Homo sapiens: one gene and its partners. The protein of the gene in region 1 purifies or fractionates together with the protein of each later gene. This does not show direct contact. Each region holds a gene or a part of one and is shown in the gene's direction. Other genes may lie near its edges. The genes, in order: AP1G2, ZYG11B and ATG2B.

What was found.
Region 2: the proteins of AP1G2 (region 1) and ZYG11B purify together in Homo sapiens (affinity purification with mass spectrometry; 2 studies listed by BioGRID and IntAct, with this or other methods). This does not show direct contact.
Region 3: the proteins of AP1G2 (region 1) and ATG2B purify together in Homo sapiens (affinity purification with mass spectrometry; 2 studies listed by BioGRID and IntAct, with this or other methods). This does not show direct contact.

Annotation. Positions count from the first base shown.
Region 1 is NC_000014.9:23,557,054-23,566,666, reverse strand, and holds the end of AP1G2 (AP-1 complex subunit gamma-like 2), read left to right. Parts: coding exon 1-105; coding exon of another isoform or gene 106-247; coding exon 248-389; exon of another isoform or gene 390-506; coding exon 507-603; coding exon of another isoform or gene 604-774; coding exon 775-851; exon of another isoform or gene 852-965; coding exon 966-1,061; exon of another isoform or gene 1,062-1,211; intron 1,212-1,467; coding exon 1,468-1,548; intron 1,549-1,826; exon of another isoform or gene 1,827-1,940; intron 1,941-2,006; coding exon 2,007-2,105; intron 2,106-2,278; coding exon 2,279-2,334; intron 2,335-2,445; coding exon of another isoform or gene 2,446-2,503; exon of another isoform or gene 2,504-2,507; coding exon 2,508-2,621; exon of another isoform or gene 2,622-2,810; coding exon 2,811-2,951; intron 2,952-3,028; coding exon 3,029-3,083; intron 3,084-3,164; coding exon 3,165-3,287; intron 3,288-3,384; coding exon of another isoform or gene 3,385-3,462; exon of another isoform or gene 3,463-3,568; intron 3,569-4,073; coding exon 4,074-4,163; intron 4,164-4,251; coding exon 4,252-4,379; intron 4,380-4,559; coding exon of another isoform or gene 4,560-4,575; exon of another isoform or gene 4,576-4,590; intron 4,591-4,600; coding exon 4,601-4,705; and 14 more. Other genes in the region: THTPA (thiamine-triphosphatase), read right to left, coding at 7,827-7,972, 9,363-9,613.
Region 2 is NC_000001.11:52,812,130-52,823,017, forward strand, and holds part of ZYG11B (protein zyg-11 homolog B), read left to right. Parts: intron 1-1,406; coding exon 1,407-1,604; intron 1,605-1,730; coding exon 1,731-1,783; intron 1,784-4,402; coding exon 4,403-4,500; intron 4,501-9,309; coding exon 9,310-9,500; 3' UTR 9,501-10,888. UniProt on the Homo sapiens protein: Serves as substrate adapter subunit in the E3 ubiquitin ligase complex ZYG11B-CUL2-Elongin BC. Acts to target substrates bearing N-terminal degrons for proteasomal degradation with the first four residues of substrates being the key recognition elements.
Region 3 is NC_000014.9:96,351,821-96,362,708, reverse strand, and holds part of ATG2B (autophagy-related protein 2 homolog B), read left to right. Parts: intron 1-10,888. UniProt on the Homo sapiens protein: Lipid transfer protein required for both autophagosome formation and regulation of lipid droplet morphology and dispersion.

The DNA of each region.
Region 1 (9,613 bases):
CGCCTCCTCCAGATTCACAGACAAGAGGGTGGGCTACCTGGGGGCCATGCTTCTATTGGATGAGAGGCACGATGCCCACCTGCTCATTACCAACAGCATCAAGAAGTGAGAGGGTTCTGGCAATCACTTGGAATCAGGGAGATGGGAGAGTAGGGACCTTGGAAATCCCAGGGGACTGCCTGTTGTGGGTATTGAAAAGGACTGATTTTCTCAGAGGTTTGACTGACCGTCCTCCCAAACCCTGCAGTGACCTGAGCCAGGGGATTCAGCCAGTACAAGGCCTGGCCTTGTGCACTTTGAGCACCATGGGCTCTGCTGAGATGTGCCGAGACCTGGCCCCAGAGGTGGAGAAACTGCTCCTGCAGCCCAGTCCCTACGTGCGCAAGAAGGTGAGATGGCGGGACTCCTGGCACGTGCTCCTGCACACTGCCTGCTGCGTGCTATATAGTAGTAGATGCAGGGGTCCATCTCCTCTGACCCCTGTCTGAGGCCCCTGACCTCTGCAGGCTATTCTGACTGCAGTGCACATGATCCGGAAGGTCCCTGAACTCTCCAGTGTCTTCCTCCCACCCTGTGCCCAACTGCTTCATGAGCGTCACCATGGTAAGGCTGTGGGGCCCCCCATCCTTTGCTTCAGGTCTATGGACAGAAGAATTGAAAATCGGATGGGAACCCCAGCTCACAGGAGAAGGGTAGTGCACACACACAGGCACACACGCAATAGACTCTCTTGCCCCTGGCCCCCACCATTCACTTCCCCGACGCTGACCCCAGGCATCCTGCTGGGCACCATCACGCTGATCACGGAGCTCTGCGAACGAAGCCCTGCAGCCCTCAGGCACTTCCGAAAGGTGGGCTGGTGAAGGGGCAGGCCCTGGGCCTGGAAGACAGGGTCAGTGGGGAAGGAATGGGGCTTTAGCTGGAGAGGATTAGAACGAATGCCCAAAGTTGTGCCCTCCCTCCAGGTGGTACCCCAGCTGGTACACATCCTCCGGACTCTGGTGACAATGGGATACTCCACAGAACACAGCATATCTGGAGTCAGCGACCCCTTCCTGCAGGTGGGGTGACCTTTCACTGCTGTATCCCTGGATCAGAGAGGGCATAGCAGTAAGACCATGACCAGTGGTTTCCTCCCAGAGAACACTGGTTCTCTCAGTGTCCTGGGCAGCAGAGTAGCAGGCACAGGATTGCTCGGGTCATCCCAGGACCTGTGAGGGGAGAGGGAATGCCTAAAAGTCAGGAAAATACAGTTTGTTAACAATTTTTTTTTTAAGCCTGTCCTAAACTCCCCTGGCCTCACACACCTCTGTTCCCCTCCTAGGACCAAGGGACCTGTGGAGGTGAGGAGGTGGGGGAAGGCTCTAGGGAGCGAGCCAGACCCTCACATGTTGGAGTTTTCTCCTCAGCCCCACGACTCCTTATCCTATGAACCCCTCCAACTTTCCATTTTCAACCCAACCTCAGGTCCAGATACTTCGTCTGCTTCGGATCCTGGGCCGGAACCACGAGGAGAGCAGTGAGACCATGAATGACTTGCTGGCCCAGGTGGGGCCTGGGAGGGCACTGGTTAGCTGTGTTGCTTGGAGACCCCATCAGCCCTGGGTGCCCCTCACATGACTCGTCACTGTGCAGTGGCCGTGTAATTGCCTCTCCATCTCCTCTAGACAGTGAACTCCATGAAGAAGGGACACAGTCTGTCTTAGTGCTATTGCCCCAGTGCCCAGGCTGGCCCTGGCACATAGTAGAGCCTCAGGGAACTTTGTTGGATGGTTGAAGGATGGACAGATAACATGTTGGAGTCCTTCAAGAATCCTGAGGATTACCTGGGCTTGTTGGCATGTGCCTGTAGTCCCAGCCACTCAGGAGGCTGAGGCAGGAGGATCATCAGAGCCTGGGAGGTCAAGGCTGCAGTGAGCTTTGGGCGACAGAGTGAGACCCTGTATCAAAAAAAGGAGACCTGAGGAGGGCCTTGAGCAGATACATCTCCTCTCTCATCCACTCAGGTGGCCACTAACACGGACACCAGCCGAAATGCCGGAAATGCGGTCCTGTTTGAGACAGTACTCACCATCATGGATATCCGCTCTGCAGCTGGCCTACGGGTATCACCCCTTATGCCTCTCCCACTACGGCCCCGCCCACCACCTCACCCACACAGGTCCTGCTTGCTGGTTTCTCCCTCCTAGCCCCATCATCTTGCGCCAATGTGTTCCCAGTCCTCAATGGCTGAGCAGGTTGCTCCTTTCCGACTGACCCCAACTTCTGCCTCTCATAGGTTCTAGCTGTCAACATTCTTGGTCGCTTCCTACTCAACAGTGACAGGAACATTAGGTAATAGTCCCAACTGTCTACCTAGGCTGTGCCACTGATCCCCTGGCCCTCTGCCCTCCTTCCTCCAGAGCCTCCTGATCCATTTCTCTCTTATCTTATCCCTATACCCAGGACAGGACGGGGAGTGGGGGCTGATGGCCATGGTATGATAGAACCTCCCCCATCCTGACCAGGTATGTAGCCCTGACATCACTGCTTCGACTGGTGCAGTCTGATCACAGTGCTGTGCAGCGGCATCGGCCCACTGTGGTGGAATGTCTACGGGAAACTGATGCCTCCCTCAGCCGGTGAGCAGTGATAGAGGGGACAGGAGGGCAGGGCAGAGGTTCCCAGTGCCCTGTGGCCAAGACTCGAGCCAGTTTAGAGCAGCTGGAGTAAGGGGACTAAGGGGGACAGGTCCCTGGGGAAGCAGAGGGCCTGAGGCATGGACCAGGATGACCTGGGCTACCTGCATGGAAACCTCTTTCTCCTGCCAGGAGAGCCCTGGAACTAAGCCTGGCTCTGGTAAATAGCTCCAATGTGCGAGCCATGATGCAAGAGCTGCAGGCCTTTCTGGAGTCCTGCCCTCCTGACCTACGGGCTGACTGTGCCTCAGGCATCCTGCTGGCTGCAGAGAGGTGAGGTGCCCAGGAGTCGAAGAGGGTAGAATCTGGGGAGCGTCAGTACCAGGACTGATGAGCCATATATCCCCTAGGTTTGCTCCAACCAAACGCTGGCACATAGACACCATCCTGCATGTGCTGACAACGGTGAGGCAGGGGCCAGTCAGAGAGCTGGGCAGAAGTGGTCAAGATTCACCACACTGACTTGGCCATGCCCACACCTTCCAGGCGGGCACCCATGTGCGGGATGATGCAGTGGCCAACCTGACCCAGCTGATTGGGGGGGCCCAGGAGCTACATGCCTACTCTGTGCGCCGCCTCTACAATGCCCTGGCAGAAGACATTTCCCAGGTACCATTCCCACCTACCTAGGCCCAGGGCTGCCCAACCACTCCCTTGCCCATCCTGGGCCACCTCCTCCCTACTAGATTCCAATTTTTCTCTCAAGGTCACAGCTGCTTACACAGTGCAGAAGACATCTGAGCACAGAGCCCTGTTTTTAAGAACATCTGGGCTTTTGTCCTGACTCTGGTACCTCCTGGTTATGTAACTACAGATGACTAACTTCCCTTATGCTCCATGTACCCTGACTGCCTCTTAGAGCTGCCTTGAGATTAAAGCTCTTGTGTTTATGAGGTTTTATTATTACCTTGAATGCTGAATGAATTAACAGATGCCAGCCAGTATCTATAGCCCCCTTTTCCATCTTAATTAAATAGGGTGGGCAGAAAGCATCATCCACCCCTTCCACAAGGGAGGGACCCTCTCACATTTCCATCCTGTTTGGTTAGGCCATGTAGTTCTGATGCTTGGCCACCAGAGGGCAGTGGGAGCCAGGTAACAAACTTCCCTTTCCCCACTCCTCCAACCCCCCACCATCTCTGCACTGCCTAAAGGGATATTGCCAGGTCTGGAAGTGAGGAGGGGACCTCAGACACTGGCCCAGCAGTGTTTCTTTCTTTCTCTCTCTCTCTTTTTTTTTTTAAAATAGAGATGGGGGGGGTCTCGCTTTGTTGCCCAGGCTGGTCTTGAACTCCTGGTCTCAAGCAATCCTCCCGCCTCAGCCTCCCAATGCGCTGGGATTACAGGCTTGAGCCACCATGCCTGGCCAGCCCAGCAGTTTCTTATCCCATGTAGCAACCACTGGTGCAGGTGGCAGCCTGGTGCATTGGGGAGTATGGGGACCTCCTGCTGGCAGGGAACTGCGAGGAGATTGAGCCCCTTCAGGTGAGACCTCATTGGGGGTACACTGAGGAGGGACTTGTCAGGGGGACAGGACTTGCACCAGGGCCACTAACTGTATCCATGTCTGAAGGTGGACGAAGAGGAAGTGCTGGCATTGCTGGAAAAGGTGCTGCAGTCCCACATGTCCCTGCCAGCCACTCGAGGATATGCCCTCACAGCCCTCATGAAGCTCAGCACTCGCCTCTGTGGGGACAACAAGTAAGAAGGGGTCCCAGCCCCTTGAGAGATGGCCTGTCACTGGGTCCACCCATTTTTGAGTTTCTTTCCAGGCATACATGCCCAGCCCTCCCTACCCCCTAGCCCTTAGGTTCTTGTTTTTGAGCCAAATCTGGGTATTTCCCTGCTCCGTGGGCCTTTCCTTCTTGCCACATCCTGCAGTGGCACACTGCCATAGCCACTTACATACTACACTGGCCCAGCCGCATCCGCCAGGTGGTGTCCATCTACGGGAGCTGCTTGGACGTGGAGCTGCAGCAGCGGGCTGTGGAGTATGACACACTCTTCCGGAAATACGACCACATGAGGTGTGTCCAGCACTGTGCTGCAGCATGGGACCCAAACCCCTGCCCTCTCCCAAATGCCCTTTTCTAGGTACAAGGGCCTCATCCTCACCTGTGTTCTTCCATATCCACGGTGAGAGCTTCCCACCCACTGTTAATTGAAGCTAAGCTGGCTTCCAACCCTCCTTGTTCATCTGAAAATCAGCAACAACATGTCATTTTAGGAAATCAGAAGGGTACTTCTGAGCCACCATGTGCCCAGGGCTCCATATTCCTAGTCCTCATCCTAGATGCCTCTTGTGAAAGGCCCAGAGACCACACAGAGGCACACTTGCATTCCATCCTCTCAGGGCTGCCATCCTGGAAAAAATGCCTCTTGTGGAGCGAGATGGCCCTCAGGCTGATGAGGAAGCAAAGGAAAGCAAAGAAGCAGCCCAGCTTTCAGAAGCAGCCCCAGTGCCCACAGAGCCCCAGGTGAGAAGGCTAGAAACTCTGGGGTAGGAAGACGGGCTGAGCTTCATACCCAGCCCTGCCCCTTCTGTCCCTTCTGCCAGGCCTCACAGCTCCTGGATCTGCTAGATCTCCTGGATGGGGCTTCTGGGGATGTCCAGCATCCTCCCCATCTGGACCCCTCCCCAGGAGGTGCCCTGGTACACCTGCTTGACCTTCCCTGTGTACCTCCACCCCCAGGTAAGCCTAAGCAAAGGGAAGATGTCTTAGAGAAGGTAGGTGGAAATGTACTGCTCCTCCTCCTAAGCCAAGGGCTGAGGCTCATGGACCCTGCTTCTTCCTGTGTGTCCCCCATCCCATCGCCATCTCAGGAGGTAAAAGAATGAAGTCAATCATGGTCATCTGTCTTCCCTTTGTTCCAGACTTCTTTCCCTGGCCTACAGGGCCCTGCTTCCTCCCCAACCCTTCTTATACCACTTTCCCACTACCCACTCACTGCCCCCTTCTCAGCTCCTCACACCCTCCCACCCTTGGCATTTCATGTTCTTTTTTACATGGAATGTTCTTTCCCCAGCACATCAAATGACCAGCTCATTCTCACTCTTCAGGCTTCAGCTAAAATGTCAGATGCCTTCCCCTACCACTCCTATTTAAGTCAGTTCTCCCCAGTTATTCTGGCATGACTTACTTCCTTCATAGCATCTATTATGGTCTGTAATTATCTTGCCTTTTTTTTTTTTTTTTTTTTTTTTTTTTTGAGACAGCGTCTTGCTCTGTCACCCAGGCTGGAGTGCAGTGGCGTGATCTCGGCTCACTGCAACCTCTGCCTCCCGGGTTCAAGCTGTTCTTGTGTCTCAGCCTCCCAAGTCCGGGCCTCAGGTGATCCACCCACCTCAGCCTCCCAAAGTGCTGGGATTACTGGCTCACGCCCGGCCTTTTTTTATTGTTTCTCTCCCCCATTAGACAGTAAGCTCCATCCTCATCTACATGTCTACTTTGTTACTAGCCTTTCGAGTAGTGCAGGGCCAGTAGGTGTTTACTCAATTTTTGTTGAATGAATGAACAAACATGTTCTCTCAAACCTGCACACTGAGCTGCTTCTGTCTCCCTACTCCAGCTCCCATCCCAGATCTCAAAGTGTTTGAGCGTGAGGGAGTACAGCTGAATCTGTCTTTCATTCGACCCCCTGAAAACCCTGCTTTGCTGTTAATCACCATCACTGCCACCAACTTCTCAGAGGGTGATGTCACCCATTTCATCTGCCAGGCTGCTGTGCCCAAGGTTTGTAAAGATCAGAGTTCAGAGGTGGCCTGGGGACTCCAGGAGAAAAGGCCACTAAGTGGAGGAGGTGGGTGGGAGACAGTGTGAGATGGGATTGAGTCATCTGGAGATCAGCACTTGGGGAGTTACAGGAAAAGGGTGTGGAGCCACTGAGTATAGAGGGGCTGCCTGAGCCCTACCTACTGCCATACTGTGCTCTGTTAAACTCCTGTGTTCAGAGTCTCCAGCTGCAGCTGCAGGCCCCCAGTGGGAACACAGTTCCAGCTCGGGGTGGCCTTCCTATCACCCAGCTCTTCAGAATCCTCAATCCTAACAAGGTGAGCTTCAGGAGTTCCCCCAAGACAAGACCCAGGGATAGAAGAAGCCGTGGGTGCTAACCCTGGTCCCTGCTCTCCTATTCCTAGGCCCCCCTGCGGCTAAAGCTGCGCCTCACCTACGACCACTTTCACCAGTCGGTGCAGGAGATCTTTGAGGTGAACAACTTGCCTGTGGAATCGTGGCAGTAACTGTCTCCACTCACAGCCTGAAATTCTCCTGTGTCCCAAACCCCAGGGGGCCCCAGCAGCTTCGAACCTACACCTGAGGGCTACCAGCAGGTGGCGCTCTGGCTTTGCACTGCAAAAACTGGGGACCAGCCCCCTTCTCCCACAAATAAAGCCCAATAAAGCCTGAGAAGTGAGGAAAGCCATATTTGGGTATATTTGAAGTGGAAAGTGTGTATGAATAACAGCAAGGGAAGAGCATTCTTACATAGGAGGTATGCATCTTCCCCTGAGCCTTGAGAACCTGTCTCAACACGGGGGCGGGGAGGGGGCAGCTGTTGGTTCTTTCTAACCCTCTCCAGGTCAGGGAACAAATTTGCCCCTAAACTTCCACAGGAGGCACTCTACCCTCTGGGCCAGAGCTGGGCACAGTGGCAAAGTCAGATTAGAATTTCTAGAGTTCTAACAGCGATTCCCAACCATTTCCTCAACTTTTCTTCTGTTTCCCACATCCCAAGGCAGGGAAATCCCTGCTGCCTCTCCTCATCTTCTAACTCAGCTGTAAGGCGGTTTAGGAGCCGCTGGCAGAATCAATGGCATCGACCAAGGGAGGGGGGGTGGCAAGGGATTTTCCTGTGCTTAACTACTGATCACGGCTAAGTGGAAATCCTATAAACACGAGCGGAAATCAATGGAGGCTGCTTAGCGGCCAGGGGAGAGGGGCGGCCCACAGATTGCATCTGACGGATGAGCGAGAGGAAGCAGCCAGGGAGGGCTCAAGGAAGAGTAGCTTAGAGGAGGGGGAAGAAACAGGCAGCGCTGGAGAGAGAGGAGTCACTGTCAGAAGGGACACTGAGGGGAGAGGCACAGTGGGCCCAGGAGTGGACTCCGTTAGACCCAGAGTTCCCTTCCCCTTCTAGGAAGTGACACCCCTAGCCCAGGCAGTGGTCAGGATCTTCAGTCTCCTGTGGCCTCTCTCTGGAGCTGTTCACTTCTAGCAGGCGCTGATAGTCTTGAGGCCGGAAACGCTGTAGATACACAATCAGCTTGGCTGGTGCTGTCTCCTGTGCAGGCACACCTACAGGTAAAAGGACAATGAGGAGAGAAATGGACAGAGCCACAAGCACTTGGACTCTGCTCCCTGCCCACCTAGCCAGGACTCCGTGGATGTTTCCAAAGCCACACTGGGGTTCTGAATGTCACCCACCCAGCTTCTGTAACACACTAGTCCACTCCCTGCCTGCCTGTGGAAGTGGGACCTAAAAGAGCAACTTCAGGCAAGAGTGGGACTAGAAGCCACACCTCAGCCTCTCTCCTCCAGCAAGGAGAAATGGCGAAGAGGCACCCAGGCACCAAGATAAACGAAGGATGCCTCAGCGTCAGCTCATTTCAGTTATTACCCTGTTCCGCAATCAAGATTAAAGCCCTAGACCAGGCCAAAGCTCATTAGCTTAGTAATGAAGCACATGCAGAGATGTACACATAGAAACCAAGAGCTATAGAAAGAAGAGGAGGGAAGCTATAGCCATGGGGTGGGATTCACATAGAATTCTCGCCTCTACATGGTGAGGTGAGAATGGAACTGCCTGTTGCCAGTGTCTTGTTGTTAGTGCCTGGCAGCATGCTGGGCACATAGCAAGGAACTCAGTGTATGTTTGCTGAGGGGGCTCAAACAGCACTGCAGGGCTGTAAGGCCCCATGGGATGCACAATTCCTAGTGTGGATGAACTGTCTACAAGGGAATTATGCTTAGGAACAAATCTGCCAAATCATGCCCCACTGTCTCACATAACTATAATGTTATTGTCCTTTACAAAAAGCCAAAAGGACAAATTAAAAGGATCTAGGTAATTGTAAAACAAAAGGACAAGACTGGTTGGACTCTCAGTGTAGTGGGCAGTGCATCAGTCTCATGATCTGAAGATCCTGGGTCTGAGCCTCCCAGAGGGCAGCTTTTGTAAAAAGGCTTACTTTTTACTCCTTGTGGAGGAGTGGTGACTGAAGAAGAAGAAAAAAAAGAGATTGGGGGAAGGAAGAGTCAAAGCAGGGAACTGAGAAATGAAACTGAAGGAGATCTGGCTATAGGTATGAGAACTAAATGAGGCAGGTTGGCTGGAATTAGACACGTGGAAGGACTAGATCCAAATTAGCTACTGTTAAAGAGAAAACGAGATTTCACAGAACTGTAAGCAAACTTAGAAAATTGCTAAAACAATTCCCATTACAAAAATAATCCAGGCCAGGCACAGAGGCTCACACCTGTAATCCCAGCACTTTGGAAGGCCGAGGCAGGCAAATTGCTTGAGTCCAGGAGTTCCAGACCAGCCTGGGCAACACGGCAAAACCTTGTCTCTATTAAAAAAAAAATTTTTAATCCGGAGGCCCTCCCCCACTGCATGGTCCAGCAGGTGCCTCCAAAAGAGAAAAGTGGGGAGCAGGAAAAGCACAAAAGGGCCTGTCTCCCTCACCAAGCATGCTGCTGAGCCTGTGGATCTTCTCTAGGGCAGTTGGTACTTCAGCCTCCTCATGCACCAGGGCCTCTACCTCACCCACAGCGTAGCCAAAGTCGGCTGTATCCAAGTCCACCCTGAGCTGTGGCTCCTCTTCATCAGCTCCCAAGAGCACCAGCTTCCAGGCACTCCGCTTAGTCACAAAACTAGCTACTTCCTGCAGCCCCAGTGGGCCCAGCACAGCAGCCACATCTCCAGCCCCCAGGCCG
Region 2 (10,888 bases), on another chromosome or scaffold:
GTCCTTGTCTGCTAATTCTATTATCTCTGTTATTTTTTAGTCCATTTCTTTGGATTGATTTTTCTCCTGGTTATGAATCATATTTTTCTGCCCCTTTGTATGCCTGGTAATTTTTTTATTGGATGCCGGTCCTTGTGAAATGTAACTTGGTGATTGCTAGGTTTTATTATTTTTCTCTAAAGAGTCTTATACTTTGTTCTTGCATGCAGTTACTTGCAGATCAAGTTGCTCTTCTTGAAGCTTGTTTATGTGTTATTTTATTTTATTTTATTTTTATTATTATTTCTTTGTGAGACGGAGTCTCGCTCTGTTGCCCAGGCTGGAGTGCAGTGATACGATTTCCACTCACTGCAGCCTCCACCTCCCAGGTTCAAGCAATTCTCCTGCCTCAGCCTCCCGAGTAGCTGGGATTACAGGCACATGACACCACGCCCAGCTAATTTTTCTATTTTTTTAGTAGAGATGGGGTTTCTCCATGTTGGCCAGGCTGGTCTCGAACTCCTGACCTCAGGTGATCTGCCTGCCTCAGCCTCCCAAAGTGATGGGATTACAGGCATGAACCACCATGCTTGGCTGTTTTGGGTTTGTTTGTTTGTTTGTTTGTTTGTTTGTTTTGAGATGGCATCTCACTCTGTCTCCCAGGCTGGAGTGCAGTGGTGGGATCTCAGCTCACTGTAACCTCTGCCTCCCGGGTTTAGGTGACTCTCGTGCCTCAGCCTCCCAAGTAGCTGAGATTACAGGCATGCACCACCACACCTGGCTAATTTTTGTGTATTTAGTAGAGACGGGCTTTCTCCATGTTGGCCAGGCTTGTCTTAAACTCCCAACCTCTCAGGTATGAGCCACCACACCCAGCCCTATTTATTTGTTTTGTTAGAGTGGCGTCTTATCAGACTTTACCCTACGGTTCATATATAATTTAGCCCTACTACTATCAAATACTTTGCTTATTATAAGGTCTCTTGAGTCTGGCTAGTGGAAATGTGAACTACTCCTATCCCTGTGTGACTTTAGGATTTATTCATATACTACTTTCTGGTAGTTCTTTCCCTAGCCTCCTGGAGTTTCACCCTTGTCATTACTGAGCCAGAGATTTGGGGTACAGGTCATGTGTGCTCTGTCTCTGAGTGTGGAGCTTTGTCCTTTCCAGCACTCTGTTCTACAGAGTTTTGCTGCTTGACCACCCTAAACTATGATCTCTGTTTCAACAAAACTGCTACTTTGTCTTTGGCTTACTCTTACCTTCATTGCAGTCTGTAAACTGCCCTCATTTGAATACTTTCTCTCAGGGAAATACTTTTCTTTCACCTTCCTGAATTGCCTGTTATCCAGGGCCTAAAAACAGTTATCTTAACCATTTACTATACATATTACATTAATTTTTATATTTTCTTTTTTTTTTCCAGAACAATATAGCTGAAGTACAAGAATTACATTCTGAATTAATGTGGAAAGATTTTATAGACCACATCAGTAGTCTCCTACACAGTGTGGAAGTGGAAGTCAGTTACTTTGCAGCTGGAATTATTGCCCATTTAATATCCAGAGGTGAACAAGCTTGGACATTGAGTCGTAGCCAGAGGAATTCTCTGCTGGATGATTTGGTAGGGTCATTCCATACCAACAAAAGACATTCATAGTGGTTAAACTATCAAAGCCTCATAATGTAGTAAATAATGCAGTGCTAAATAAATATTGTAATCCTTTCTTGTGTGTCTTTTGTCTTCCAGCATTCAGCTATTTTGAAATGGCCAACTCCAGAGTGTGAGATGGTAGCATACAGGTAATTAGTATCATAATTAACAGTAAACCAGCAACCTAGTCTAGAGATCATTCCTAAGAGTCATTCCTACTAGATGCATAATTTTTCCCTCAGGCACCTCAATATTGGTTATTTATTTATTTATTTTGAGACAGAGTTTCACTCCGTCGCCATGGCTGGAGTGCAGTGCATGATCTTGGCTCACTGCAACCTCCACCTCCCAGGTTGAAGCAATTCCCCTGCCTCAGCCTCCCGAGTAGCTGGGATTATAGGCGCCCACGACCACGCCCCGCTAATTTTTGTATTTTTAGTAGAGACGAGGTTTCACCATGTTGGCCAGGCTGGTCTTGAACTCCTGACCTCAGGTGATCTGCCTGCCTGGGCCCCCCTAAGTGCTGGGATTACAGGCGTGAGCCACCACACCCAGCCAAAAGTATTGGCTTTAAAAGAAGCAAAGTATTTTGACTTTTTTCTACCACCTATCACTCTTCATGTTTCCTTCATTTCACATTTGTTGAAGACAAGTGCTAGGAATTTGTTCTATGCTCTTGAAATACAAAAATGAACAAAGACATGGTGTCTGCACACAAGAATTTTATATCCTTGTGAGGGAGAGTGAATGTGGATCAGATAAAATACCGTTATGCCAAATGTCCATAGAATGTTATGAAATTAAAGGTGAAGCCCAGTGGGGTAGCACATACCTGTAGTCCTGGGAGGATCACTTGAGCCCAGGAGTTTGAGGCTGCAGTGAGTTATGATTGCATCACTGCATTCCAGCCTGAGTGACAGAGCAAGACTCCAAATGTAAATACACACACACACACACACACACACACACCTTTCAGAGGAAGTGAGTTGTGACCTGAGTGTTGAAAGATAAGGAGAGGCAGGAGATTTTTAGGAAGAAAAAGCATCGTATTAATGTAGGAAGGTCTAAAATAAAATGACACATTGAAGGAATTAGAAGTAGCACCAGATTTGGGCCAGGCATTGTGGCTCATGCCTATAATCCCAGCACTTTGGGAGGCTGAGGTGGGTGGATCACTTCAATCCAGGAGTTCGAGACCAGCTTGGCCAACATGTTGAAACCCCTGTCTCTACTGAAAGAACAAAGTTAGTGGGGCATGGTGGTGCACACCTGTAATTCCAGCTACTTGGGAGGCTGAGGCATGAGAATCGCTTGAACTTGGGAGGTGGAGGTTGCAGTGAGCTGAGATGGCGCCACTGCACTGCAGCCTGGGTGACAGAATGAGACTCTCAAAAAAGGAATAACACTAGATTTGGTTGGGGAAACAGTTTGTAATAATTTATTAAAGGGCATACTGGGCCTGGCATGGTGGCTCACACCTATAATCCCAACACTTTGAGAGACTGAGGTGGTAGTATCACTTGAGTTCAGGAGTTGCAGACTAGCCTAGGCATCATAGTGAGACCTCATCTCTACTAAAAAATAAAAAAACCTGGGCATGATGGCATACACCTGTAGTCCCACCACTTCGGAAGGCCAAGGCAGGTAGATCACTTGAGCTCAGCCTGAGCAACATAGTGAGACCCCGTCTCTACAAAAAATAAAAAATTAGCCAGTTGTGGTGGCACATCCCTGTAGTCCAAGCTGCTTGGGAGGCTAAGGTGGGAGAATCGCTTGAGCCTGGAAGGTTGAGGCTGCAATGAGTTGAGATCGCCTTACTGCACTCCAGCCTGAGCAACAGAGTGAGACCCTGTCTCAAATAAATAAATAAATGTAAAAATAAATAAATAGGCCGGGCATGGTGGCTCATGCCTGTAATCCCAGCACTTTGGGAGGCCGAGGCGGGCAGATCACGAGGTCAGGAGATCGAGACTATCCTGGCTAACGTGGTGAAACCCCGTCTCTACTAAAAATACAAAAAAATTAGCCGGGCGTGGTGGCAGGCGCCTGTAGTCCCAGCTACTTGGGAGGCTGAGGCAGGAGAATGCCGTGAACCCAGGAGGCGGAGGTTGCAGTGAGCTGAGATCGCGCCACTGCACTCCAGCCTGGGCGACAGAGCGAGACTCCGTATCAAAATAAATAAATAAATAAATAACAAAAATTAAGAAGTGCATACTGGATGCCTAACTCTGTTTGTAATTAGATAACTTGATAATTAAATTACTAATTACCTGAAGTATTTAATTTTTATTCAACTTATTTTTTTTGTTTGGTTCATAAATGCTGATGTTGCCAACATTTTTTTTATTTCTCCAACTTATGTTCCACCTATTTTTATTCAGACCAGTAGAAAATAGAAGGGATAATTATACATCTTTTTCATAGTGTTCTACTAGTTAGTTATCACCTAATTTCTCTATTTCTTAGTTTCCAAACCAAGATCTACTTATCTTCAAATGTGTATCTTTAAGACTAAAAAGTGCTTTTGGAAAAATTTTTTCTCTTTCACTACCATGTTCTAATCACCTTCCATCTTCTGTACTGAGTCATGTCTGAATGCAGTCTTCTCTGAAATGGTTAAGACAAAGAAATGATATTCTATAGCTCATTTATATTAGTCTAAATATAATAGGATAAAATTTTGAAAATGAAAAGTTTAGGAATCACTGCTTTAGGAAATTACGCTAAATATGGGATGTAACTTTGATTCTTTTCTTTTGAACCTTTAGGTCCTTTAATCCATTTTTCCCATTACTTGGCTGTTTCACAACACCAGGAGTTCAGCTATGGGCAGTTTGGGCCATGCAACATGTCTGCAGCAAGAATCGTATGTACCAAAAAAAAAGAACTGTGTTTTTTTTCTTTAAGTGAAATTCTCATTTCCCAGGAAAGATATTTCTAAATTGTGTATTAAAGTGATTTTTAAGAACACTGACTTAAAATGTAAGGCCATCTTAGGTTATAAACTTAAGGTATTCTTTTTTTTTTTTTTTTTTTTTTTTTGAGACGAAGTCTCGCTCTTGTTCCCCAGGCTGGAGTACAGTGGCGCGATCTCGGCTCACTGGAACCTCCGCCTCCTGGGTTCAAGCGATTCTCCTGCCTCAGCCTCCCGAGTAGCTGAGATATCAGGCACCTGCCACCATGCCCGGCTAATTTTTGTATTATTATTATTTTTTTTTAGTAGAGACGGGGTTTCACCATGTTGGCCAGGCTGGTCTCAAACTCCTGACCTCAGGTGATCCGCCCGCCTAAGCCTCCCAAAGTGCTGGGATTACAGGCATAAGCCACTGTGCCCGGCCAACTTAAGGTATTCTTTCAGAATGAGCATGGTGTAACTAGACACTGAATAATAGTGGTGAATGAGACACTGTTCTCACCTCAAGGAATTTAAAGATTAGGAGACTACAGTGAGTCCATTTGTTGAGTAAAAGGTCTTAAGTAGATCCACTGTTTATGGTACATTCCGGTGCCCAATTCTCATTCACCCAAAATTCTGTTGTTCAAGATGTCGCTGCCAGCACCCATGGTTTCTGAAGAAGCAAAGTGTTTGAATCAGGTTCTATATTATTCTTTGAAAGCTACGATGTAACTCTTATTTATTTATTTAGAGACAAGGTCTGTCTCTATCACTGGAGCTGGAGTGCAGTGGCATAGTAACAGCTCACTGCAACCTTGACGTCCAGGCTCAGATGATCCTCCTGCCTCAGCTTGTAGCTAGGACTACAAGTGCACGTCACCATACCTGGCTTTTTTTTGTATTTTTTGTAGAGATGGGGTTTCATCATGTTGGCCAGGCTGGTGTCAAACTCCTAGGCTCGAACGATCTGCCTGCCTCTTCCTCCCAAAGTGCTGGCATTACAGGCGTCAGCCATCAAGCGTGGCCTAATTATTTATTAATATAAACTCATTCCACAAATGATTTGACACAAGAAATACACAGAACCACTTTAATAGTAAAGTGTGTATATATATGTGTATATATATATATATATATATATATATATATATATATATTTTTTTTTTTTTTTTTTTTTTTTTTTTTTTTTTTTTTTTGAGATGGAGTCTCACTTTGTCACCCAGGCTGGAGTGCAGTGGTGCGATCTCGGCTCACCACACCCTCCACCTCCCAGGTTCAAGCGATTCTCTTGCCTCAACCTCCAGAGTAGCTGGGACTATAGGCCTGCACCACCACACCTGGCTAATTTTCGTATTTTTAGTAGAGACAGGGTTTCACCATTTTGGCTGGGCTGATCTTGAACCCCTGACCTCAGGTGATCCACCGACCTCGGCCTCCCAAAGTGCTGGGCTTACAGGTGTGAGCCACTGTGCCTGGCCTACTTTTAGTTTTAATTAGAAGTAAGGAAAAATAATTTTTCAAAAATTATAGGGGCCGGGCATAATGGCTCATCCCTATAATCCCAGCATTTTCTGAAGTTGAGGTGAGTGGATCGCTTGAGCCCGGGAGTTTGAGACCAGCCTGGGCAACATGGCGAAACCTAGTTTCTATAAAAGATGTAAAAGAAATTAGCCAGGTGTTGTGGTGTGCTCCTGTAGTCCCAGCTACTTGGGAGGCTGAGGTGGCAGCATCATCTGAGCCCAGAAAGCAAGGCTGCAGTGAGCTGTGATGGCACCATGCACTCTGGCCTGGGTGACAGAGTGAGACTCTGTCTCAAAAAGAAAAAAAAAAATTCTAGGATAGAGGGAAAATAGTCAAATGTAGACTTGTAGGCCATGCATAGGGATTTTTGTGGCTCTGCTGCAAGTAAAAAGCGACATGGTTCTCCATATAAGAGGGAAACATTCCATATCCTTGTCAGGGGAGATGGGGAGGGGAGAGAATTTTTTATGAGAAGTTAACTATGAATTAAATTTCTTCTATTGGACCTTAATAGGGGACATACTATAAAGGGCCTTATATAGGATATGTGAGAGTTGTTTTTACTAATATCCTTATAGCAGAAGTAGTAACATTTAGTGAGATTTTCGCTTGGGTTTTTTTTTTTTTTTTGGAGACGGAGTCTCACTCTGTTGCCCAGGCTGGAGTGCAGTGACACGATCTCAGCTCACCACAACCTACACCTCCCAGATTCAAGCATTTCTCCTACCTCAGCCTCCCGAGTAACTGGGACTACAGGAACACGCCACCATGCCCAGCTAATTTTTGTATTTTTAGTAGAGGCTGGGTTTCACAATTTTGGCCAGACTGGTCTCGAACTCACCCGCCTTGGCCTCTCAAAGTGCTGGGATTACAGGCATGAGCCACCGCACCCAGCTCCTTCTCTTGTATTGTTTGATGAAAACTCACTGCATACCACAAAAAGGCAATGCAGTAAAAGCTCTTCTGTGTCAGATAAAGAAGAATAATTCAATGAATGGGATGTGACCGAGAAAACTGCCTTGTACCCACCTGAACTCCCACCTGGAGGCTTATCCGGTCCTTCCTACTACATTACCCAGAAGCAGAGTTGTTCACTCATAAATCGAAAACTGCCTCTTTAGCTACATTAAACTGTCTCTGCCCTAAAGTCGTTTTCTTTTTACTGTACCCACAGGTTCTGAGGACTCCCAAATTTCTTAACAGTTGATCCCATCATATTCCCAGTCTCTAATCTATAGGTTCCTTTCCTCATAACTCAAGGAATGGACCTTTCACAGCTCAGTAGGAGAAAATAAAACATAATAAGTAAATAATAGTGCATTTTTGGCTGGGCATGGTGGCTCACGCCTGTATTCCCAGCACTTTCGGAGGCCAAGGCGGGTGGATCACGAAGTCAGGAGATCGAGACCATCCTGGCTAACATGGTGAAACCCCATCTCTACTAAAAATACAAAAAATTAGCTGTGGGTTGTGGCACACATCTGTACTCTCAGCTACTAGGGAGGCTGAGGCAGGAAAATCACTTGAACTGGGAGGTGGAGGTTACAGTGAGCCGAGATCGCACCACTGCACTTCAGCCTGGGCGACAGAGTGAGACTCTGTCTGAAAAAAAAATAATAATAATAATAATAATAGTGCATTTTCATATGAGTATTTATTTTTGTCACTACTTTTAGGTATTAGAGTTATTTAGGTTTTACTCTATGGAATGACAGCCCTGAATAATTTATTTTATTTTATTTTATTTTTTTTTTGAGACGGAGTCTTGCTGTCGTCCAGGCTAGAGTGCAGTGGCATGATCTCGGCTCACTGCAAGCTCCGCCTCCCACTTCACGCCATTCTCCTGCCTCAGCCTTCCAAGTAGCTGGGACTATAGGCGCCTGCCACCACGCCTGGCTAATTTTTTTGTATTTTTAGTAGAGACGGGGTTTCACCACGTTAGCCAGGATGGTCTCGATCTCCTGACCTCGTTATCTGCTCGCCTCGGCCTCCCAAACTGCTGGGATTACAGGTGTGAGCCACCACGCCCAGCCCCTGAATAATTTATTCTAAAATGCACTGTAATTTGGGGAATATTAGAATATTTTGTCTCCAACTCAGATAGTTTAGGTTCCTACCTTGTGGGCTTATTTTGTTTATATTTAAATGGAATTCACTTCTATTTGTATTAAAATGTTTTAATGTGGCTGGGTGTGGTGGCTCACACCTGTAACCCCAGCACTTTGGGAGGCTGAGGCAGGCAGATCACTTAAGGTCAGGAGTTTGAGACTGGACTGGCCAGCGTGGTAAAACCCCACCTCTACCAAAAATACAAAAATTTAGCCAGGTGTGGTGGCTGGTGCCTATAGTCCCAGCTACCCAGGAGACTGAGGAAGGAGAATTGCTTGAACCCGGGAGGCAGAGGTTGCAGTGAGCCAAAATTGTGCCATTGGACTCCAGCCTGGGCAACACAGCAAGCTGCAGTGAGCCATGATCACACCACTGGGCATGAGCCATGATCACCCCAGCCTGGGCAACAGAATGAGACTGTCTTTAAAAAAAAAAAAAAAAAAAAAAAGGCTAATAAAATATTTCAAAAATTTAAAAATTGTATGTGCAGTATGAGTGCCATTAAGTTTTTAAAAAGCATAGTAAATGCAGCCTGGCATTATGGCTCATGCCTGTAATTCTAGTACTTTGGGAGGCTGAGGCGGGAGGATTGCTTGAGGGCAGGAGTTTGAGACCAGCCTAGGCAACATGGTAAAACCCCATCTCTACTAAAAATAAAAAAATTAGCCAGGGGTGGTGGCATGTGCCTGTATTTCCAGGCTGAGGCACAAGAATCGCTTGAACCCAGGAGGCGGAGGCTGCAGTGAGTCGAGATTGCGCCACTGTACTCTGGCCTGGGCAACAGGGCAAGACTCTGTCTAAAAAAAAAAAAAAAGCATAGGAAATGCATAAAAATATAACAACACTTACCTGTGATTTTGGGTCAAAGATAAGGTAGTTATGATTGTTTTTATTTTTTTAATACAGGTTGTACATGTCTTGAGGTTAGAAAAATCAAGCTAGCTATTTATTGATTGAATGTGTAGGCCTTGCACTGTAGACGTAACATCAGTATAGAGGTTATTTATCAAGCTGTAGCATGTTAGTGATCAATAACAAAACAGCTAAAAAAAAATGGCTCCTAGAAGTCATTTTTTTGTGGAATAATTTTCAAGTGTTTTAAGAAAAGCTATTTCTCCTGTTTTGTGTGTGTTTTTTTTTCTTTTTCAGCTTCAAGGTATTGCAGCATGCTGATTGAAGAAGGAGGATTGCAGCATTTATACAACATCAAAGATCATGAACATACTGATCCCCATGTCCAACAGATTGCTGTGGCCATTCTGGATAGCTTAGAAAAACACATTGTGCGCCATGGGAGGCCACCTCCCTGTAAAAAACAGCCCCAAGCCAGACTAAATTGATAGCCATAAGTATTGGATAGTTGAATCACAGGAATCCTTTTTGTGATTGGTCCATTTGGAATATCTTACCCTCCCTGATGTTTTGGGGGTTTCTATGACAAGAGTCATAAAATCAGTTTGGGATTGATAATGTGTAGTACTGCCCATGTGAACAGTCTCTAATTTGTCTTGTGATTTTAAACTTATGAGTCAAGAAGGGTCTCTTCCTTTATCATTGCCTTTTAGGAAATTTTCCACATCTTTCAGTGTTTGAACTTACTTGTGCTTGAGATTCTACAGTTTTATGGTAAAGTTTGCACGAACCCTTAGGCCAGACTTTTCTGATCTCAGAGTCCCTTCCAATCAATTTGCAGCTTCACATAAGCTGTTGACCTGATTTCTGACACTGCTTCAGTTGTAAATTTTATACTGCTTCTGTATAAAATGCCTTTCTTCTCTATCTGTGTATATTTTATAAGATGTCCTTCTTAGTGTGAAAGAAGGGAAATGTGGATCATCTTGTGGAAGCTAATCACTGGCAGGAGCCTGGATGGCTGGCGGAAAGATATATGAGAAAGAAAAATTATGAAGGTAGAACAGAGTGTAGGAACTGGGAATTGGTTTCATGGTATAGGTTTTAAAATGAGACAGGCTACCCTTCGGGAGTCCACCTCTCTTGAGGCGGTGAGCAGAAGCTTGTCCTCCATATTTATACCTAGAAGTGTGGACTGCTGGTTCCTGCACAGACTGCCGGTTATTCACTAGGAATATTTCCCCAAGCACCACAGTATAAAATACTACAGCACTCTGTGTTAAAGACTAACTGTCTACATCTCCATATGTTGTAGTGTTGTGAAAATGTGATTTTAAAAAATTATCGCCAGTTAAAACTGGCTATTCTTTTCCTCTATTTCAAAGTCATTTTTGTTCAGTGGAATAGAGACAGCAACATGGTGTTAACCTCTCAATTAAAATACAATTGACACCAGTAAATTTTGCCATAAAAAGTTAAAATCTCTTGTTCAAAATATGTGTATCTTCTTAATGTGTTCATGTTAGAGAAAGTGTCCCCATCTCACTGCCAAAAATGAAAGAAAATAATTAAACTCTTTAAATGATTAAATGTAATGATTCTACTCGCAGTGCATAACAGCACATATTTTTGACAGATTATTTTTTAGGCAATTACCTTTCCTTAAGGTATCTGATACAGTATAGTAAAGAATCACTTATATCAGTAATAGCACTTGAGAGATAGCAAGTCACCAAGAAACTTAATTTTCATTTAAAATTTTATTTTGTGAATAAGGTCAATCTACAATCCCAGATAACTACATTTTTTTTCATAGATGGCCAGTGTTTTCAACAGAGATTTAAAATGGAATATTAAAATTATAGTGATTATTCAG
Region 3 (10,888 bases), about 73 Mb from region 1:
TTTGGACCCGAGTGTGACACGGCTCAGAGAAATGTGTTAGAGTGTTGTTTAATCTGTTTCTAACAAGTTTGCTCTCCTAAATCACGTGTTCCGGAAACTTTAACAGATGTAATGGAATCTACACTGTGGGAATAATTGAGTCAGTGCTTCGGGGGTCTGTGAAGCAGGCTCAATAGGTCCGTGGGAGGAGGTGACCAGAACTGTCCCTCGGGATGTGAGGGGCCGCAGGGTTTTGTGGCAAACAAACCCTGCCTTGTGGGATGACATTCTGGAAGGATTAAGGATGAAGAGGACCTTTGGATGTCAGAATCCCTAGTTATTTGTTTTGGGTTGGCTGCTTGCGCACCATGTTTGCCTTGTTTGTCATCGTGCAGCGTTTGCCATCTGGAAGAAAGTTAGGTGAAGGCCTCTTGTGCCGGTTTGCCTGCTTTTGCTTGATTATATGTTTACAAGATAGGTTTGTGTATCCAGCCTGTGAATGGTCGTCTGGCCCTAGTAGTGCTGTTGAGTTATGCCTCTTTGCTCCACGTGACAGATCGTAAAAGCAGGTGTTGCAAAAGCGCTGAAGTTGCAATTTTCAGACATTTTAAAACCTGCCTTCTACTTGTCATCTAGAGGCTGTGAATTCACTCATTGCTATACAGGTGCTTCATCTGAATTTCGACTCACCACATGCAGTCGTACCTGCATTTGTGTGTTCAATGCATAGCATTTTACTTAAAGTATATTCACTTTTGGGTTTGACAGGAATAGAGTGACTTCTACCCTTTGCCCAACCCTTACTTCCTTAGCCACAGAAAATCTTAAATTATGGAAATACCTTATTATGACCCTTAAGCGAATTTGTGCTAGAGACTATAAATCAGTATATAATTTTATCAGTATGTACCTGACATAAACTAGGGAGAGGACACAAGATAGTGGAAAGAGCCCTGGTTTGAGAGCAGTAAGACCCAGTCGCTCACCAGGAGGTGAGAGTCCTACCCCTGGAGAGACTCTCCAGACCGCCACAATTAGCCGAGTGATAATGGACTTAGCAATTCACCTGAGTTCAGTAAACACTAATGGAGCACACACTTCATCTCTGTGTCGTCCGTCTTATGGTATTGTATTCCTGTAATTCTTCCAAAAGATAGGGATTCTGAAGGATATTTTTGAATTCAACAACCCATGATTCTATACTTTTGATACAGTTATGAATAGGTTATCTTGAAAAAAGAGGGTTCAGGATTTATTAATGCCTTTTGTGGGTGGAAGGGCTTTGTATGCATTATCCTTTAATGACTTTAACCCTATAAGGTGGGCATTAATATTTCCATTTTACAGATGGAGTTAAGCAGTTTGCCCCATCACACATCTAGCAAGTATTACATCACATGGCCTAAGATCAAAAGAAAGGCAGTTAATGTTTATTGAGTATGTATTTATGTCAGGCATTGTACTAGGCACTTTCATTTGTGAGGTTTTATTTAGTCCTTATGGGAAATCAGAGGTAGTGATATTTGAATTTTATAGTTTGAGTTCAGAATCATTGGCAAAATGATTTATTACTAAACTTAATCTGAGGATGATGTTTTGTTCTTGATGGGCGGGTTTTGTAAACTAAAATGATAATGTCAAAGCATCCAGTAAACATTTGCTGTTGCTGATTTATTTTCATGTGCTGTGTTGATGGTTAGGATAAATCTTAGTGTGACCCTTAGATACAGCTGTTCAGAGTTCTGATTCCAAATTCAGTTTATTTTCACACTTGATTTTTTTTTTTTTTTTTTTTTGGTAGAGGATTCATTCTCTTGCTTTGTTGCCAAAGCTGGTCTTGAACTCCTGGTTTCAAGTGGTCCTCCCACTTCTGCCTCCCAAGTGCTCAGATTACAGGCATGAGCCATAGGACCCAGCCAGATACTTGATTTTAATGACTTACATGACTGAAAAAAAGGTACCTTCGGAGATTCACAGATCCTAATGGAAAAACTGATGCTAATTGAAGAATTGCTGTACTCCTACTGTTTCAATTCTAAATGATCAATTATGCAAAGAATTTTGTTGAACTCAGCAATGACATTCCTTTCATTCCTGATCTCAATTAGTTTTTCTATTATGGCTAATTGACATTGCATATATACACACAATTAGGTTTAAAATTCAGTTTTTCAAGCTCTTTGTTCAGAAGACTTAGATTGGTTGGAATAGTCTTTTCATGTTTTTAAACATTTTGTAAACTATATAGATAATGACTTAAAAAATAAGCAATGTTTTTAATAGACATTGTTTTCAGCAACAAAATCATGGAACAATGGAAACATTTCCAAATACAGTTTTTCAAATGTTCTCCTCATAGTACAAGTAGTCTTTGAAAAGTGGTTGCTTTCTTACTCATTATTAAAGTGCTATCTTTATTTTGAAAAGACAGATTAAGTATGTTTTGTTTTTTGGAAAATATCTGCTAGGTAGCATGTACTACTGATAGTCATTGTCATAAATACATAAATAGTCAGTGGAGAATTCTTCTCTGTGTAAAAGGAAAATGCTTATCTTTAAATCCAACCCTTAAACACTTGGCCATAGGAGAAACCAGGAAACCAGAAGGTAATTGCCATTCACTTTCTCTTTACAAAGATTCTACTGTTTAAAGGTCTGGTTTTATTCTATAGAATGTATGTGGAAATGTTTCAGTGTGCAGAAGTGGAAGGAACATCCAACTGAGGGCACCACTCTTAATCCTTCTCTGTTGTGGAACTACTAGTTTTCTCTTTGTACCAGTTTGATATGTGGCTTGAAGGAAGGTGCCAGTGCCCATTTGTATATTAAATATAAGTACAACTTTTCAATCTAAATTTGGAAAATTTAATATAGAATGTCTCATTTTCCTCTCACATCCTTATGAATCATCTGATAATACTTTAGGATATATGCATCCAGTTTTGGAGATTACTACCTTAAACGTGGCATGAAGTGGAGGGAGAAATAGAGGCAAGGGGTTTGGGATTGTTCCATCATTGGAATAGACTGTCTAAAAATTTCATAAACTCCTTGTCCCTAGAAGTGGTTGAAATGGCAAAATGTTGAAAGGAGGAAATTCTATTTGGGGTGGGAAGTTGGATTTAATGACTCATTCCTTTTTAACTCTATGACTGTGCCTTTATTTTTGATTTTTAAATGGAATTTCTTTCATTAATCGATTCAGTACATTTATTGAGCTCTTAGCATGTGCCACTGTGAGGGGCTGGGGGATATAGCAGTGAACTAAACAAAGACCCTTTTCTTACAGGAGCTCAAGAAGATACACATTAACAATTTATTACACTGAGGCCTTTTATTTTATTTTTTTTTTGAGACAGGGTCTCACTCTGTCACCCAGACTGGAGTGCAGTGGCGTGATCTAGGCTTACTGCAGCCTCAACCTGCTAGGCTCAAGCGATCCTCCTACCTCTCCTCCCCTCCCTGCAGTAGCTGGGACTACAGGTGCATGCCACCACACCTGGCTACTTTTTGTATTTTTTGTAGAGACGGGATTTCGCCATGTTGCCCAGGCTGGTCTTGAACTCCTGGACTCAAGCAGTCTGCCCATGTCGGCCTCCCAAAGTGCTGGGATTACAGACGTGAGCCACCACGCCTGGCCACTGAGGCCTTTTAACTTCAGTTTAAGAATGTTTCGATTGCTGCTTATATTCTCTTGGTGTTTAATAAAATTATCTTCAGTTCAAGAAACATTGATTACTGATTATTTGTCAAAGGTCACCTGGAGACTAGAGTGTTACCTTCACTTTTTCTGTTTATATGCGTGAAACTCATTGATGATAATTGAAAGCAAAATACCCTTAAACAGAAGAATAAAAAGCTCTAAAGGACTCTATGGTGGGGCATTTATTTGCTGAGTAGTTCAGGTGTCTCCACTTTTAGTTTAAGAGTTATTTTCTCGTTAGCATAGTGGTGACTAAAAAAAAAAAAATACTTGATAGGACTGGTGAGGAAACACTTCATAGGACTGGTGTGGAAAATGTTGCTTGAGCCAAGTAGGTTGAGAATTTTTACTACTCATATACTATAGTAGCCTTGGATTTTCCCAGAATGACTGAATTTCAAGGTACCTTATGCTACAAGATATATGGGATTTTGCTCAAGTGGTTATAAGACTGGGCATAAATATAACCTATTTAAACATCTTATACTTAGGGAAATTATTTTGTAGCTTAGTGGTGCAATGTAAATTCTGGAACTGTTGACTCTCCAAAACTGTTAACATTTATCAGTTTTTTTCTTTTTTTCCTTTTCTTTCTTTAGAGACAGTCTCTGTTACCTAGGCTGGAGTACAGTGGTGTGATCAGCTCACTGCAGCCTCAAACTCATGGGTTCAAGCGATCCTCCAATCCAGCCTCCTGAGTAGGTGGGGACTACTGATGTACACCACCACACCCAGTTAATTTCTTTTAATTTTTGTAGAGACCGGATTTCACTATGTTGCCCAGGCTGATCTTGACCTCCTGGGCTCAAGTGATCCTCCCACCTCAGCCCCCCCCAGTTTCTGGAATTACAGGCATGAGCCACCGTACCAGGCCCCTTTAATATTACTCTTCACTGCTGTAATAAACCTTTTTGTATTTAGAGGTTTAACTTTATTTCAACTTCTCTGCCACAAAATTGGGACGAAAACTTGGTGTTTACTGAGAAGAGAGTTCCATCAAGTCCCGTTTCTCTCATAGTTGTCTAAGGTTGACAGTTTGCAGAAGCTAAGTCATTGCCTCCATATGTTTTAAACACTGTTAGGTTTTTAATAGTTCATTTTTACTATACAATTAATATATGCTCATTACAAAAAATTCAAACAGTAAAGAAATATATGAGGTATGAAGTAATAGAGCTTAATCCCATCTCTTCCAGAGATAACAATATGGTACAAAAGTTTCAAACTTTTAGTTGTGGAAATACTTAATACATGAAGCAAGCAGTTCTACTTACCTTTTGAAGTCTTTTATGATGGGCCATTTTTTTAATGGAATGTGTCAAACATTCTTAAAAAAAAAAAACTATGAAAAAATCTGAAAAACACAAGTAGAGGGAAGAACCTTGATGACCGTAACTTGTGGTACCTAGTTGATGGTGAAATAGGAAATTCTAGAGAAGGAGCAGGTTTTCTCCACTGTCTGGAGTTGGGAGTGGGAGGAGGAGATTGAGATTGGACAGAGAATAAGTTTTACTATATTGATTTTTGAGGGGGCTTTAGAATGTGGGGGCTTTAGATCCAGGTAGAGAAGCTCAGGAGGCACTGGGAATATACGTATAGGAAGATTGCAGTTGTAAAGATATGGGAGTTATCAGAGTATCAATAGTGAATAACAGTGGCAGGAGATGGAACTGCACAAAGTGCGTGGGTAGTAAGTAGATCAGCTTGAGAAACAAAAAAGGCCGAAGATGAAACTTAGATGAACTCCAACATTTTAAATTGTAAAGGATCAGAAAAAAGATTGAGAGAGTGAAGTGTTACAGAAGTCAAGGGAAGTTAGAATTTCAAAAAAGGTGAGTGGTCCTAGGAACTAGGTAGAGATGAGAATTCAATAAAGATGAGGACTAAATATTGTTTATTGCATTTGTCATTTTAATGGTGGTTACAAGCAGTTTCAGAGGAGCTGAGGGTTAGAAGGTCGCTTGTAGTTTGCAGTTTGAGCAGATAACTACCTTGACAGAGAAAATGGGGTTGATGGCTAGGGGGAACATGGAGCAAGGTTAGGGGTTTTAGTTTACTTTTGAAAATAATAATGATCATTTATTAAATACCTTCCATCTCTATATACTGTACTGTGTGGGTGCTTTTACATACATTATTTTACTCTAAATTGGGTACTAACTTTCTGTTTACTGTGAGGTTAAATAACTTACTCAAGCTTAGTATTAAACAGTGCAGCAAGGTTTGAAACCTGTCTTTCTGACTTTATATTTTTTTTTTGTACACCACACTGCCCCAGATTCAAGAAACTTGAGCTTCTCAGACATAACAGCACTGGGTTCACCTGGGAATTTGCTAACATTCAGGCTTCTGGCCCCTTCCATACAGATTTTGGCTCTAGAAATTCAAGAATCTGCATTTTTAATAAACATCCTAGGAGATTCTGATACATGTGATCCTTGACTGCATTTTTAAAAATACTTGCACTAAAGGAATGGAGAGTTTTTCCATTGCGTTTTAAAAGCTTGTTCTATGAGCCAGCCCCCAAACCAGTACTACGTTAAAAAAAATTATGATATGTTAACACATGATTTTGCTTAGCCTCCTGCAAAATCTTCCATGTGAAAATACATTTCTCTTTTTTGTGGGTTTCCGCAGTGATTAATTGAAGACCTTTTGCAAGTTACTTAGTTTTTCTGATCCTCAATTGCCATATTTGTAAAGTAGGCACAAAAATACCTAATTCGGAGGGTTATTATGAAGATTTAATGCAGGTGTAAATGTAGGTATAAAATAGTACACTCTAGTGTCCTGTTTGTAGTAGGTGCTGATGAAATGTTAATCTAAATTAGCTCATGCACTTTTTTTTTTTTTTTTGAGCCGCATTCTTGCTCTGTCACCCAGGTTGGAGTGCAGTGGCGTGATCTCAGCTCACTGCAAGCTCCGCCTCCCGGGTTTATGCCATTCTTCTGCCTCAGCCTCCCGAGTAGCTGGGACTACAGGCTCCCACCCCGACGCCTGGCAAATTTTTTTGTATCTTTAGTAGAGACGGGGTTTCACCATGTTAGCCAGGATGGTCTCCATCCCCTGATCTTGTGTTCCCCCGCCTCTGCCTCTCAAAGTGCTGGGATTACAGGTGTGAGCCACCGCCCTCAGCCAGCTCATGCGCGTTTTTATGCTCTGTCTTATCTCGATTTGAATTCTGATGCCTTGGTTTAAACTAATAAAGATGTATTCTTTGCCTAGTTAATCTATGGAATTACGTATTAAGAAGAAATATATAATTTAATGTTTGCTTTTTTTTCATATTGTCAAGCACACCTTGAGTTCCTTTATAGAGCTCATCATTGTACTAGGTAGGTACTGTGAAAGATAAAGACCAATGGCCCGCATTTAAAAAGTGTTTGCTTAGTACCAGGAACTATTAATATGTTGGTAGTTTTACATATATTACCTCATTAATGGTCACAGTAACTCTGTGGAGTTACTATTTCTATTTTATGGACCAGGAAATTGAGACTTGGAAATTAAGGATTTGTTCAGAGCCACCCAGCTAGCTAGTAAGTAACCTGAACATATGCTGTTTTAAAGGAGTGGGCTTCTCACACCTGCAACTATCTGATCTTTGACAAACCTGACACAAACAAGCAATGCGGAAAGGATTCCCTGATGGTGCTGGGAGAACTGGCTAGCCCTATGCAGAAAATTGAAACTGGACCCCTTCCTTACACCATATACAAAAATCAGCTCAAGATGAATTAAAGACTTAATTATAAAACCCCAAGCTATAAAAACCCTAAAAGAAAATCTAGGCAGTACCATTCAGGACATAGGCATGGGCAAAGATTTCATGATGAAGAAGCAAAAAGCAATTGCAACAAAAGCAAAAACTGAGAAATGGTTATCTAATTAAAGAGCTTCTGCACAGCAAAAGAAACTGTCATCAGAATGAACAGACAGCCTACAGAATGGGAGAAAATTTTTGCAAGCTATCCGTCTGACAAAGGTCTAAAATTCAGCATCTGTAAGGAACTTAACAAATTTACAAGAAAAAAACAACCCCATTAAAAAGTGGGCAAAGGATGTGAACAGACACTTCTGAAAAGACAACATACATGTGACCAACAAATGTGGAAAAAAAAGCTCAACATCACTGTCATTAGAGAAATGCAAATCAAAACCACAATGAGATACCATCTCGCACCACTCAAAATGGCTATTATTAAAAAGTAAAACAACAACAATAACAACAAAAACAAAACACACGGGCTGGTGAGATTGTGGAGAAAAAGGAATGCTTTTACACTGTTGATGGGAGTGTAAATTAGTTTAACCATTATGGAAGACAGTGTGGCGATTCCTCAGAGACCTAGAGGCAGAAATACCATTTGACCTAGCAACCTCATTACTGGGTATATACCCAAAGGAATATAAATTGTTCTATTATAAAGATATATGCACGCTTATGTTCATTGCAGTACTGTTGACAATAGCAAAGACACGGAATCAACCCAAATGCCCATCAGTGATAGACTGGATAAAGAAAGTATACATACACACAGTGGACTACTATGCAGCCATAAAAAGGAATGAGATCATGTCCTTTGCAGGCACGTGGATGGAGCTGGAAGCCGTTATCCTTGGCAGACTGATGCAGGAACAGAAAACCAAATACTGCATGTTCTCAAGTGGGAGCTGAATGATGAGAACACATGGACACATGGTGGGAACAACACCCACTGTGGCCTGTCAGAGGGTGAGGAGTGAGAGCATCAGGAAGAATAGCTAATGGATACTGGGCTTAATACTAAGTGATGGGATGATCTGTGCAGCAAACCACCATGGGACACATTTACGTATGTAACAAACCTGGATGTACTACACATGTATCCCTGAACTTAAAAGTTGGAAAAAATAAATGAAGGAGTGGTCTTTAACCATGTTTGCTCAATTATCTCTGAAATTTTTTTTAAAAAACTACATATTCCTTGTATGTTTAAAATTGACTTACTTTTTATTATAATTTTAAATAGTTGTAGAGAATAACTTGTTTAAATATTGATATTAAAATATAACTTTTTTCATCCAGTGGGATTTAAAAATCGTACACATTATCCGTTAAAAAATGCTTGAACAATCTCTTCATTAAAGTTGGAAATTTAACATCGTGTCTTTTTCCATTGAACTCCTGTGTCCATTTTACTTTGCAAGATTCCATTGTAATTTATATAGTTTATGCTTGTCTTTTATTGATCATGCTGCCATTTCTCTACAATAAAAACATATAAATTGAAATTGTTTATATTAAATTTTTTCTGTTGGCATTAGGCTTTCTTTTGCATTAAGCAAATATTTTCTAGTGTAACATTTTAATTCCTTTAATGATTTATATATATATATATATAAAATATGAAATTTTTTTGAGACAGATTCTCACTGTTTCGCCCTGGCTGGAATGCAGTGGCACAATCTCGGCTCTCTGCAACCTCAGCCTCCCAGGTTCCAGCGATTCTCGTACCTCAGCCTCCCGAGTAGCTGAGACTACAGGCCCATGTCACCATGCCTGGCTAATTTTTTGGGTTTTTAGTAGAGACAGGGTTTTACCATGCTGCCTAGGCTGGTCTTGAACTCCTGAGCTCAGGCAATCTGCCCACCTTGGCCTCTCAAAGTGCTAGGATTACAGGTGGGAGCCACCATGCCCAGCCCAGTATGTATTTTTAAATTGTTTCTTAGTGGTTGCTCTAGGGCTTACTATATTCATTTTATCAGTACAGTCATGTGTTGCTTAACGACAGGGATATGTTCTGAGAAATGGGTCATTAGGCAGTTTTGTTGTGTGAACGTCATAGTGTACTTGCCTAAACCCAGTGGTATAGCCTACTGTATACCTAGGCTATAGGGTACAGCCTATTGCTCCTAGGCTATACACCTGCACAGCATGTTACTGAATACTGTAGGCAACTGTGACACAATGGTATTTGTGTATCTAAACATAGAAAAGGTATGTACAAATATGGCATAAAATATAAAAAATAAAAATTTTAAAAAGATAAAAATTGATATGGCTGTATGGGGCACTTACCATGAATGGAGCTTGCAGGACTAGAAATTCCTCTGAGTGAGTCAGTGAGTGAATGTGAAGGCCTAGGACATCACTGTCCACTACTGTAGACTTTATAAACACTGTACACTTCGGCTAGAATAAACACTGTACACTTCGGCTAGACTATATTAATAAAGACATCTTTTTTTTTTCAATAATAAGTTAACCTGAGGTTACAGTAACTTTATAAACTTTAAAAAAATTTTTGAACTTTTTGTTTCTTTTGTAATAACATTTAGCTTAAACACACATTGTACAGCTATGCAAAAATACTTTTTCTTTATATTCTTATGCTATAAGCATTTTTTTGTATTTTTAATTTTTTTTTTTAATTTTTAAACTTTTTTGTCAAAAACTAAGACGCAAAAAAACACAGCCTAGGCCTACACAGGGTAAGGATCATCAATGTCACCACCTTCTACCTCCACATCTTGTTCCACTGGAAGGTCTTCAGGAACAGTAACATGCATGGAGCTGTCCTTTCCTATGATAACAATGCCTTCTTCTGGGTACCTCCTGAAAGAACTGCCTGAGCCTGTTTTACAGTTAACTTTTTTTTTTTTAAAGTAGGAGTATACTCTAAAATAATGATTAAATTGTATAGTATAGGTATTAAAACAGAAGCCGGTAGCATAGTTGTTTATTATCACCCTCGAGTATTATGTACTGTGTATAACTGTTTGTGCTAGACTTATGACTGGCAGAGCAAGAGGTTTATTTACACCAGCATCACCACAGACATGTGAGTAATGTGTTGTGCTACATTGCCTTATGATGGCTGCGATGTCACTAAGGTGATAGGAATTTTTCAGCTCCATTATAATCTTACAGGACCACTATCCTATACATGGTCTGTCATTGACCAGATGTCCTTCTGTGATGCATAACTTTATTTCCTTCAGATAATCATGGGGCTTTAAGTGTTACTTTTCTTCTGGATTGTGTTGTAATTACAATTATTGTTAAGTGTATAGTTGATCAAAACAGTATAAATTTATGCATTTTGATAAGCATAAAAATTTTTTTTTCTTTTTTTTTTTTTTGAGACAAGGTCTTGCTGTGTCACCCAGGCTTGGGTGCAGTGGGTGATCACAGCTCAACCGCAGCCTTGACCTCCTGGGATC